Regions from separate parts of the Homo sapiens genome. Here region 2 is linked to region 1. Evidence: fine-mapped expression QTL. Tissue or cell type: minor salivary gland. Region 1 holds a variant in brackets; the other region holds the start of a gene. All regions are shown on one strand. Distances are between the middles of the regions.

Region 1 (5,372 bases):
TACATATAATACTGTTAATTAGATTTTGGTGTCAGAATTTTATCAGTCTTGTAGAATATACTAGAAAATTTTCTGTGTTTTTTTCTAGGCTTCAGGATAGTTTAAATCATAGACGATTTATCTGTTCCTAGAGGGTCGGATGGTAAATTTTTGACATCCTTCTCATTTTTAAATAATTATTATCCAGATTTTCTACTTCTTTATTTAACTCTGGTAATTATTCCTTTCATCCAGATAAGGATTCATTCATACCTTCATACCTCTTGGTATGAGGGTATACATGGCATTCTCTAAGTTTTATAAATCTCTGCCATATCACTAAGTATTTTGTCTTATTTCTATCATGAACAATTTAGTTTTTCTCTCTCTCTTGTTCTCACTCTTGCTCTCGCTCAAGTTTGCCAAGAGATTTATCTATCTTAATCTATTCAAAGCTATGGTTCTTTACTTTATCAATTCTGTTTTTTATTCCTTAATTTTTTTCTATACAACTAATTTGTTTTCCATTTCACCTATTTTATTCATTAATTTCTTATTTTTTCTTAGCTTCTTCAGTTAAATATTTAATTCATTTGTTTTTAGCCACTTTATTAATAATAAGAGGATGTTCAGTCCAGGAATTTTCCCCTGATTACAGGTTGGGCCACATTCTGGTTTTTGTTGTTATTGCTATTGCTTGTTTTTTTTTTTTTTAACCTTCATCTTAAAGTTTAAATATGTGTGAAATACACACATAATTAAGAGTATCCAGTGCTTATAATTTAAGAAGCATCCCTTTTCCTCTCTCATACGGCCCCACGACTCCATGTTTGCTTTCCCAGGAGAAAGCATGCTGGATTGTTGCAGCTCTCTCTGGTCCATTTCCATTTTAAAAAGGTGTTTTCAGCATTACATCATGATATAGTATTAGTTTTAGACATTATCTGTTGACTGCCTGTTAGAAGAAACTATAGTCTCTTTTGTATGTGGCCCCTGCCTCCTTCCCTGCCACTCTCCCAGTATGAGTGAGATCATTTTTCTGAGATTATTTCTATAGCTCGATCACTTCTCAGGGCTTGTATTTGGAACATCTTATCTTGCCCAGTTTTTCCTGTGAATGTGGAAGAAACACTTGCCAATGAACCTGGCTGGACCCAGGCTCTTCTCTCCTTGAATAGCGGCAATAACCACAAGTCTTCAGCTTGACCTCTCAAGTCCACAGCGGCGGCCCGGGGTAGTCCATCAGGGGCTACCTAGGGTGGCTACAGATTTGGCTAGAGCCTTACCTAATACCTGAGAAAGTTGGCTTAGAGCTTCTCGTTTGGAAGAACTCATAGTTTTTGTCTCGCACTTTGTTTTTTTTTTTTTTTTTTAATTCTTGAGTTTATTTTTTCATTTTACTTTAAGTTCTGGGATACATGTGCAGAATGCGCATGTTTGTTACATAGGTATACATGTGCCATGATGATTTGCTGCACCCATCAACCTGTCATCTAGGTTTCAAGCCCTGCCTGTATTTAGTATTTGTCCTAATGCTCTCCCTCCCCTTGCCCCCCACCCGCCGACAGGCCCCAGTGTGTGACGTTCCCTCTCTGTGTCCATGTGTTCTCATTGTTCAACTCTTACTTATGAGTGAGAACATGCGGTGTTTGGTTTTCTGTCCTTGTGATAGTTTGCTGAGAATGATGGCTTCCAGCTTCATCCATATCCCTGCAAAGGACATTAACTCATTCTTTTTTACGGCTGCATAGTATTCCATGGTGTATATGTACCATATTTTCTTTCTCCAGTCTATCATTGATGGGCATTTGGGTTGGTTCCAAGTCTTTGCTATTGTAAATAGTGCTCCAATAAACATACGTGTGCATACCACAATGAGATACCATCTCGTGCTGGTTAGAATGGAGATTATTAAAAAGTCAGGAAACAACAGATGCTGGTGAGGCTGTGGAGAAATAGGAACACTTTTACACTACTGGTGGGAGTGTAAATTAGTTCAACCATTGTGGAAGACAGTTTGGCGATTCCTCAAGGATCTAGAACCAGAAATACCATTTTACCTAGCAATCCCATTACTGGGTATATGCCCAAAGGATTATAAATCATTCTACTTTGTTATATTTTTATTTATTGTGGAATATTTTATTTTATTTATTTTATTTTATTTGAGATAGGGCCTTGCTCAGTCACCCTGACTAGAATGCAGTGGCACAATTAAGACTCACTGTAGCCTCCACCACCAAGGATCAGGTGATCCTCCCACCTCACCCTCCAGAGTAGGTGGGACTACAGGTGCACTACCAGGCCCAGCTAATTTTTAAATTTTTTGTAGAGACAAGGCCTCATTGTGTTGCCCAGACTGGTCTCAAACCCCTGACCTCAAGCAATCCTTCCATGTTGGCTTCCCAAAGTGCTGAGATTACAGACGTGAGCCGCTGCACCCAGCCTATTATGGAATATTTTAACTTACACAAGTGAATATAGTAGTATAATGAACTCCCAGCTTCAGAGAGAGCGAGAGAGAATAGTGAGTCACTTAGCTTTAAGACTGTCAGTTCACAGCCAATCTGACTTCATCTATACCTCTATCCACTTTCCCACTCCTCTATTATCTTGAAGCAAATCCTAGAAATCATATTTTATTCATAAATATTTCAGTATGTTTCTCTAACAGATAAGGACACTTTCTTTAATATAACCATGATGCCATTATCCTAAAATAGTAATTCCTTAATATCAACAAAAATCCACTCAGTATTCAAATTTCCGGTTGTCTTCTAAAAGTCATATGGGGTCAAACCAAGTCTCTTTGATTTTAGGTTCTACTTGTCGGTTTGAACCAGGCGCTGAACAGCTCCACACCTGCTGACTGGCTGTACTATCTTTTGTTTTCATCTCTGGAGTTCCCAGCCATTTTTTTTTTTCAACATTTGTGGAAGAAACCAGTTTCTTTTGTCCTGTTTCCTAGTTTCGATTTTGCTAATCATGTCCTTGTGGGGCGTTGTGTAATATTTTTCTCTGTCTTCTGTGTTTTTTTGTGGATTGGAAGCTGGAGCAGTGGGGTTCATGAAACTCGATTTTTTTAAACAGGAAATCTATCTACGTGAGGTGTTGTCTTACAAGGAGGCATAC[G/A]ATGCTTGATTGTCTTTCATTTTGTTATGTTAACAGACCTGTGTTCAATGCCTGGATCCATTATTTTAAGAAGGCTTGCCAAATGTTAATGCTCCGTTCTCTTGTTTCCTCATCCATTCAGTGGAATAACTCCACAAAGAGAAGCTTCCTCCCAAATACTATTTAGTAATTGTGTGGCAATATTTTAAGTCTTTTTCTTTCATTAACATACATCAACAACAAATATAAGATTTGCTATGTATAACTCCATGTGTGTATATGGAAACTGAGGACTCTGAGTTGTCAAAGACTCCTAGAGCTGCCTAAGGAGTTTCATCAATAGATCTCTCACTGTTGTTGGTCAGCAGCTTGGAGACAGTTCCTTGACAGTGCCTGGCTGTCTAGAAGAGAACAGTCCACTCCCCATTCTCACTGGAGCTTGGTGTATCTGTGTGACTATGTTCCGGTCATTGAGATAAAAGTGGAAAACATGAGGCTGCTTTCATGAAGCTGTCTTAGAAGGCAGCTTTGCTGGCTCCTGACCTCCTCTTCCTTGCCTCTTCCTCGTGCTTGGAATACATGGAATGCAGAAGAGAGGGCTGGAGGTCCTGCAGCCTTCTTGGACTAGGAAGTCAAGCTCCACACCCTAGAAATAGCAAACATGAAAGCCACAAAGTCCACGGATCCCTGAAACTCTCCACATGCCATATTAACCTGAGCTGCCCACCTGCAGGTTGCTTTCACGTGAGAGGGAAATAGATTGCTATCTTCTGTAAGATACTGTATTGGGGATAAGGAGGTTCTATTAATCTTGATGAGTGGAGTTGTCCAGCTCCCACATCCTCCCAGGTGAAGCAGCTCTTCTCTTCACTCTGCAAACCTTGAAGACCTGCTTGGAGAAGGGCTGGGGGGAGCATGGGTCATATTCTCCTTTGGCACTCCCTCCACTGGCTCCAGCTCAATAACCTTTAATTCGGATGACACATGACCCCACTCAGCTACTCCAGTCCTGAAGTAGAGTTAAATGGGAAGTTATGTGCTCCAGATACAACTCTGGTCTTATCTCCTACCTCTTTAAAGCATCTGTGGAGGCACAGACGCCAGCAGCAATGGCCTCCCTCCCGCAGGATTCTGTCATCTCCTGTTTCCAGGCACCTGGAATCTTATGGGGCTTTTTAACTTCCAATCATAAAACAGCTTTCTCTGTCATCCAAGGCATGCATGGGCCATCTCAGCCCTTTGATCCCCTCTCTCCCTAACAATGCTCACCCCCTTGGACTGTGTTTCTCCAACATGTCTGGTTCTGCCAGCACACATGCTAAAAAAGGACAAATGTGGTTTCTTCTCTGTTATGATCATCTTGTCTGGAGAATTTGCCAGAATTCATGGAGTTGCATAAAGGTGCTAAGTGGAAAAATGGACTGTATTTAAGCTCAATTGTTTTGAGCTATGAAAATGCAAAGATGTGCCTCCACCTTGCTTCTTGCAGATTTTATCTAAGGGTCTAGAAATCTACAATAAGACATAAATGCCATCTACCCTCTCTGAGACTTTTGAGTCCATAAAGCAAATCATCACCCTCTAATTAAGACCTGCTTGTGTTTTCTGATTAACAGTTAAGGGGGTTATTTTTGATATTTCATGTGGGAGCTTCACATGTGTGTGTCGACCAATATCTCAGATCAATGTGTGCGTTCACAGAGCTTTGTGTAGTGCTGTGCATCGTGCTCCTAATCCCACTTTTAGTAAATAAAAAAGAAGTGAGGTGGTAGAGATAGCAAGTGCACACATAGGGGCAGAAGGAATTGGTGTGAGACTAAGCATGATCTAATCTAATCAGAGACTCAAATTTATGAGACTCATTACGAGACTATGACACACATGTGCTTATTTCCACTTTACAAATGCGGAAACTGAGCTAGCGAGTGATGCAAACAAAATTCTAATTCCAGCCTTGTCTACTTCCAAAACCCGTGTTCTTCCCCTGCACTGCTCCCCTGCTGTTGATTTGAGCCTGGTGGTGAACCTCGGCTGCTACCAAATTTATCAGTGGGAGGTCCTTGTAGGAGAGCATCTGGAAGGAAGAGGGCGTAGGAGACCTATCTTGAGGTTGTGTTTGCACGGGAAGAAAGCTCATTGCTCTCGTGGAGTGGGGAGGCTGGAGATAATAAGGGGGCTAAATAAAGCTCCTTAATGTAGGACTCCAATCCCAGCAAAGGAATATGACAGAACCAAAAAGCAAAACCAGGCAACTCATGTAGGAAGGTGGTCCCCGCTGGCTC
Region 2 (5,372 bases), 50 kb before region 1:
TTTTTATAAAAAACGAGAGAAAAAGGCAATCTGAAGTGGTTATAGCTAAAATAATGGGCCTGAACGTGGCTGAATTAAAACAGCACAGAAAAGATCAATTAGGAGGCACTTTCTCAAATAGCTCACACCCAGCTCCCGGCGTTTGGCTCTCACTCTTGCACTAAATATTTCTAATAGTTGCTGAGGGAGAGACACAAAAAGGAAAAGAAGGAAAATAGGGCCCAGGAAGGACCTTTGCCAGGAAAATTCTAGAAAAGCCAAGTGATTTCCGCTGAATTAATTTTAATTTAAAGGTCCTGAAAAATTACTCACTAGACAAAAAACAACAACAACAAAAAAAAAAACACTATAATAAAAATGGCAGTCTTTCAAAAATAAAATCATGCAACTTTTCACTTGGGAAATAACACAGTTGAAGGTGGTGTTCTAACTGCCCGGAGTTTCTACCTTCTTTTTCACTTTCTCCCTCACCCCGACTTCCTCCAGCACCTCCTAGTGAGACCCAGGACACCCAGGGACAGCGACCCAGGGGTGGGTGCCTGAACCTGCCTATTAATTCTGGGATTCTGGGCGCTCAAATGTCTGTTGAACGGATGAATGAATGAGTGGAAAGGTGAGATTTCCCCAAGTTTCTTACCGATGTAAAAATTGTAGGGCTTGTTTTAATTAAAAGCCAATACTCTCCGAGGAAGTGGCCCCCTCCTGCACGGCGTGCAGAAAGCTGGTCAGTGAGGGGGGTTCCTGGCGGGCCCCATCTCCTTCCCGGGCGCTTCCTAGGGAGACCTTGCCCCGTGCGCAGCGTCCCCACCGCGGGGGCCCGTGCAGCCGCCCCCCACGCCGGGTGGAGCGCCGCCAACGCGGGAAGCCCCAGCACTGCCTCCAAAGATGTCCGCACACTCCACCCTGCTCCCTGGAACTATCCTCAAACGGGCAGGGGGCAAGCGAGGCCGGTGGACGCGGGACTCGCTCCTCTGACCTCTCCCCGGCCCCCCGGGAGGTAGCGGGAGATTGCACACGCGATCCTGCGAGTTTCCGAACTTTGGAAGATCGTGACCCGGAGAGACCCTGGGAGGAGAGGGCCGGCCACCTCCTAGGGGTGCTGTTTTTTTAAGGGTCAACCCAGGACGCTACGGGAAGCACCTGGCGCATCCTTGGGAACAGTGGGGCTTGGCGGTGGGCGCCCACCGCGAACGCCCTGGGCGGGGGAAGGGAATGGCGGGGGGACGTCGTGTCCTAAGTGACCCCGTCACAGACCCGCCCCAATCCGAGGGGGGATGAGCTCAGAGGACCTGCCCAGGACGCTCCTTCTCCACTTTCCAGGAAAACCGAGCGGCGTGCGCGCCTCCGTGTCCTCGCGGGAGCTGGGGGTCCCCGGGCAGGCGCTGACGCGCTCCTCCCACGACCCACTCCATCCCACCCTACTCCGGGTCCTCCTGCGGGGCTGCAGCCAAGGAGGGCGCTGGCCGGGCACATCACTCGCCAAATCACATAAATACCCCACGAGCGAATGACTTCCTATAATAAATAAACTCAGCCGCCAAGAAGGCATCTCCAGCCCTGCTGGCGCGAGGCCCCGGCTCTGCGGCTTCGGAGGGGGCGGGGGTCACCGCGGTACAAACCAAGCCCGCACTTCCCGCGGGGTGGGAGGCGGTGTTCAAAGTCCCGGGACGCTTCCCGCCCCTCCCCCTTCCCGCCTTCTTAGAGGAGACCTCGGATGAGCGGCCCTAAAATCCGGATTCTCGAGCCCCTCCCCCTCCCCTTAGCTCGTCTCTTTGAAATTTCAAAGAAAATCCCTCCTCGGAGCCCGGAGCCCGGGGCTGGTAGCACCTCCCCAGCCTCAGGAAGATGCGGGCAGGTTTACAAGCAAGGGCCTACTTTATGGCCCAGGCTATAAAACGCAAATCCCACCTCCCTTTGAAAGCGCCCTCCGCCCGGGACTCACCATAAAAGGAAGAGAAGATGCACCCCGCGCCCCTCGCCGCGGACCACCCCCAAACCCCTTCTCCCGCCAGTCCCCGAACTTCCCGTAACCTCGGCGTCCTCGGGGTGCCGGGGACCATCCCGGGGACCGCCGGGAAAGGGGGCGCCGGCGGAGAGGATAGCGAGAGGCAAAGTTGGAGGCCAGGCAGAGAGAGGGCGAGGAGAGGCGGGCGGGACTGCCGGGGAGGGTCGCAGCGCGCAGAGCCCCGCGCGCCAGGCGGGCTGTCCCGGGGCTGGCGGGCGACGCGGGCGGGACTAGGCGCTGCGCCCCCCGCAGGCTGGGCTGCAGGCCGGGGGGGATCGGCCCCCGCGGGGCCCGGGAGCCCGCGGCGGGGCGGCGGGGAGGAGGCTGCCCCGGGCCGCTGCGCTTTCTCATGCAAAGCAGCGGCGGGGCGGGGCGCGCGGCCCGGGGGCGGGGCCTGTCAGCGCTCGGCTTTTCTGCCCCCCTTTGCCTTTTTGCGAGTCTTCTCATCCCGGGACGCAAACCTCGAAACAGCTGCCGGCTGGTCCCGGCCGAGGCCGGCGCAGGGAGGGAGGAGCCGCCCGGGCTGTGGGGGCGCCGCGAGCTGGGCCGGCCTCGGTGTGCCCGCGCCGCCAGCCCGCTCCAGACGCGCCACCTGGGCGCTCCAAGAAGAGGCCGAAGTTTGCCGCGGCCGTGAGTTGGAGCTCGCGCCGGGCCGCTGCGCCGGGAGCTCCGGGGGCTTCCCTCGCTTCCCGGTATTGTTTGCAAACTTTGCTGCTCTCCGCCGCGGCCCCCAACTCGGCGGACGCCGGGCGCGGAGAGCCGAGCCGGGGGCGCTGTGCGCAGCGCTCGGGCCAGGCCGGGCGGGCATGGGCGGGGGCCCGAGCAGGGGTGGAGAGCCGGGGCCAGCAGCAGCCCGTGCCCGGGAGCGGCGGCGCTGAGGGGCGCGGAGCTCCCCGCGAGGACACGTCCAACGCCAGCATGCAGCGCCCGGGCCCCCGCCTGTGGCTGGTCCTGCAGGTGATGGGCTCGTGCGCCGCCATCAGCTCCATGGACATGGAGCGCCCGGGCGACGGCAAATGCCAGCCCATCGAGATCCCGATGTGCAAGGACATCGGCTACAACATGACTCGTATGCCCAACCTGATGGGCCACGAGAACCAGCGCGAGGCAGCCATCCAGTTGCACGAGTTCGCGCCGCTGGTGGAGTACGGCTGCCACGGCCACCTCCGCTTCTTCCTGTGCTCGCTGTACGCGCCGATGTGCACCGAGCAGGTCTCTACCCCCATCCCCGCCTGCCGGGTCATGTGCGAGCAGGCCCGGCTCAAGTGCTCCCCGATTATGGAGCAGTTCAACTTCAAGTGGCCCGACTCCCTGGACTGCCGGAAACTCCCCAACAAGAACGACCCCAACTACCTGTGCATGGAGGCGCCCAACAACGGCTCGGACGAGCCCACCCGGGGCTCGGGCCTGTTCCCGCCGCTGTTCCGGCCGCAGCGGCCCCACAGCGCGCAGGAGCACCCGCTGAAGGACGGGGGCCCCGGGCGCGGCGGCTGCGACAACCCGGGCAAGTTCCACCACGTGGAGAAGAGCGCGTCGTGCGCGCCGCTCTGCACGCCCGGCGTGGACGTGTACTGGAGCCGCGAGGACAAGCGCTTCGCAGTGGTCTGGCTGGCCATCTGGGCGGTGCTGTGCTTCTTCTCCAGCGCCTTCACCGTGCTCACCTTCCTCATCGACCCGGCCCGCTTCCGCTACCCCGAGCGCCCCATCATCTTCCTCTCCATGTGCTACTGCGTCTACTCCGTGGGCTACCTCATCCGCCTCTTCGCCGGCGCCGAGAGCATCGCCTGCGACCGGGACAGCGGCCAGCTCTATGTCATCCAGGAGGGACTGGAGAGCACCGGCTGCACGCTGGTCTTCCTGGTCCTCTACTACTTCGGCATGGCCAGCTCGCTGTGGTGGGTGGTCCTCACGCTCACCTGGTTCCTGGCCGCCGGCAAGAAGTGGGGCCACGAGGCCATCGAAGCCAACAGCAGCTACTTCCACCTGGCAGCCTGGGCCATCCCGGCGGTGAAGACCATCCTGATCCTGGTCATGCGCAGGGTGGCGGGGGACGAGCTCACCGGGGTCTGCTACGTGGGCAGCATGGACGTCAACGCGCTCACCGGCTTCGTGCTCATTCCCCTGGCCTGCTACCTGGTCATCGGCACGTCCTTCATCCTCTCGGGCTTCGTGGCCCTGTTCCACATCCGGAGGGTGATGAAGACGGGCGGCGAGAACACGGACAAGCTGGAGAAGCTCATGGTGCGTATCGGGCTCTTCTCTGTGCTGTACACCGTGCCGGCCACCTGTGTGATCGCCTGCTACTTTTACGAACGCCTCAACATGGATTACTGGAAGATCCTGGCGGCGCAGCACAAGTGCAAAATGAACAACCAGACTAAAACGCTGGACTGCCTGATGGCCGCCTCCATCCCCGCCGTGGAGATCTTCATGGTGAAGATCTTTATGCTGCTGGTGGTGGGGATCACCAGCGGGATGTGGATTTGGACCTCCAAGACTCTGCAGTCCTGGCAGCAGGTGTGCAGCCGTAGGTTAAAGAAGAAGAGCCGGAGAAAACCGGCCAGCGTGATCACCAGCGGTGGGATTTACAAAAAAGCCCAGCATCCCCAGAAAACTCACCACGGGAAATATGAGATCCCTGCCCAGTCGCCCACCTGCGTGTGAACAGGGCTGGAGGGAAGGGCACAGGGGCGCCCGGAGCTAAGATGTGGTGCTTTTCTTGGTTGTGTTTTTCTTTCTTCTTCTTCTTTTTTTTTTTTTATAAAAGCAAAAGAGAAATACATAAAAAAGTGTTTACCCTGAAATTCAGGATGCTGTGATACACTGAAAGGAAAAATGTACTTAAAGGGTTTTGTTTTGTTTTGGTTTTCCAGCGAAGGGAAGCTCCTCCAGTGAAGTAGCCTCTTGTGTAACTAATTTGTGGTAAAGTAGTTGATTCAGCCCTCAGAAGAAAACTTTTGTTTAGAGCCCTCCCTAAATATACATCTGTGTATTTGAGTTGGCTTTGCTACCCATTTACAAATAAGAGGACAGATAACTGCTTTGCAAATTCAAGAGCCTCCCCTGGGTTAACAAATGAGCCATCCCCAGGGCCCACCCCCAGGAAGGCCACAGTGCTGGGCGGCATCCCTGCAGAGGAAAGACAGGACCCGGGGCCCGCCTCACACCCCAGTGGATTTGGAGTTGCTTAAAATAGACTCCGGCCTTCACCAATAGTCTCTCTGCAAGACAGAAACCTCCATCAAACCTCACATTTGTGAACTCAAACGATGTGCAATACATTTTTTTCTCTTTCCTTGAAAATAAAAAGAGAAACAAGTATTTTGCTATATATAAAGACAACAAAAGAAATCTCCTAACAAAAGAA

What was found. PIP is the estimated chance that this variant, and not a neighbour inherited with it, causes the effect.
Region 2: FZD10 starts here. The variant in region 1 is the best candidate, but not a certain one, in a credible set for the expression of FZD10 in minor salivary gland (GTEx, PIP 0.60).

Annotation. Positions count from the first base shown.
Region 1 is chr12:130,209,740-130,215,111 of GRCh38, forward strand. No RefSeq gene overlaps it. Among named protein-coding and RNA genes, the nearest start is that of FZD10, 50 kb to the left of the region's middle. The variant G/A (reference allele first, on the strand shown) is at 3,112.
Region 2 is chr12:130,160,020-130,165,391 of GRCh38, forward strand. It overlaps FZD10 (frizzled class receptor 10), which reads left to right and starts at 2,445. Exons shown (of 1, transcript NM_007197.4): 1 at 2,445-5,372. The coding sequence starts at 2,924. The coding sequence ends at 4,669. It overlaps FZD10-AS1 (FZD10 antisense RNA 1), which reads right to left and starts at 1,659. Exons shown (of 4, transcript NR_033834.1): 1 at 638-1,659. RefSeq lists enhancers at 925-1,491, 1,492-2,058, 3,645-4,640, 4,726-5,271.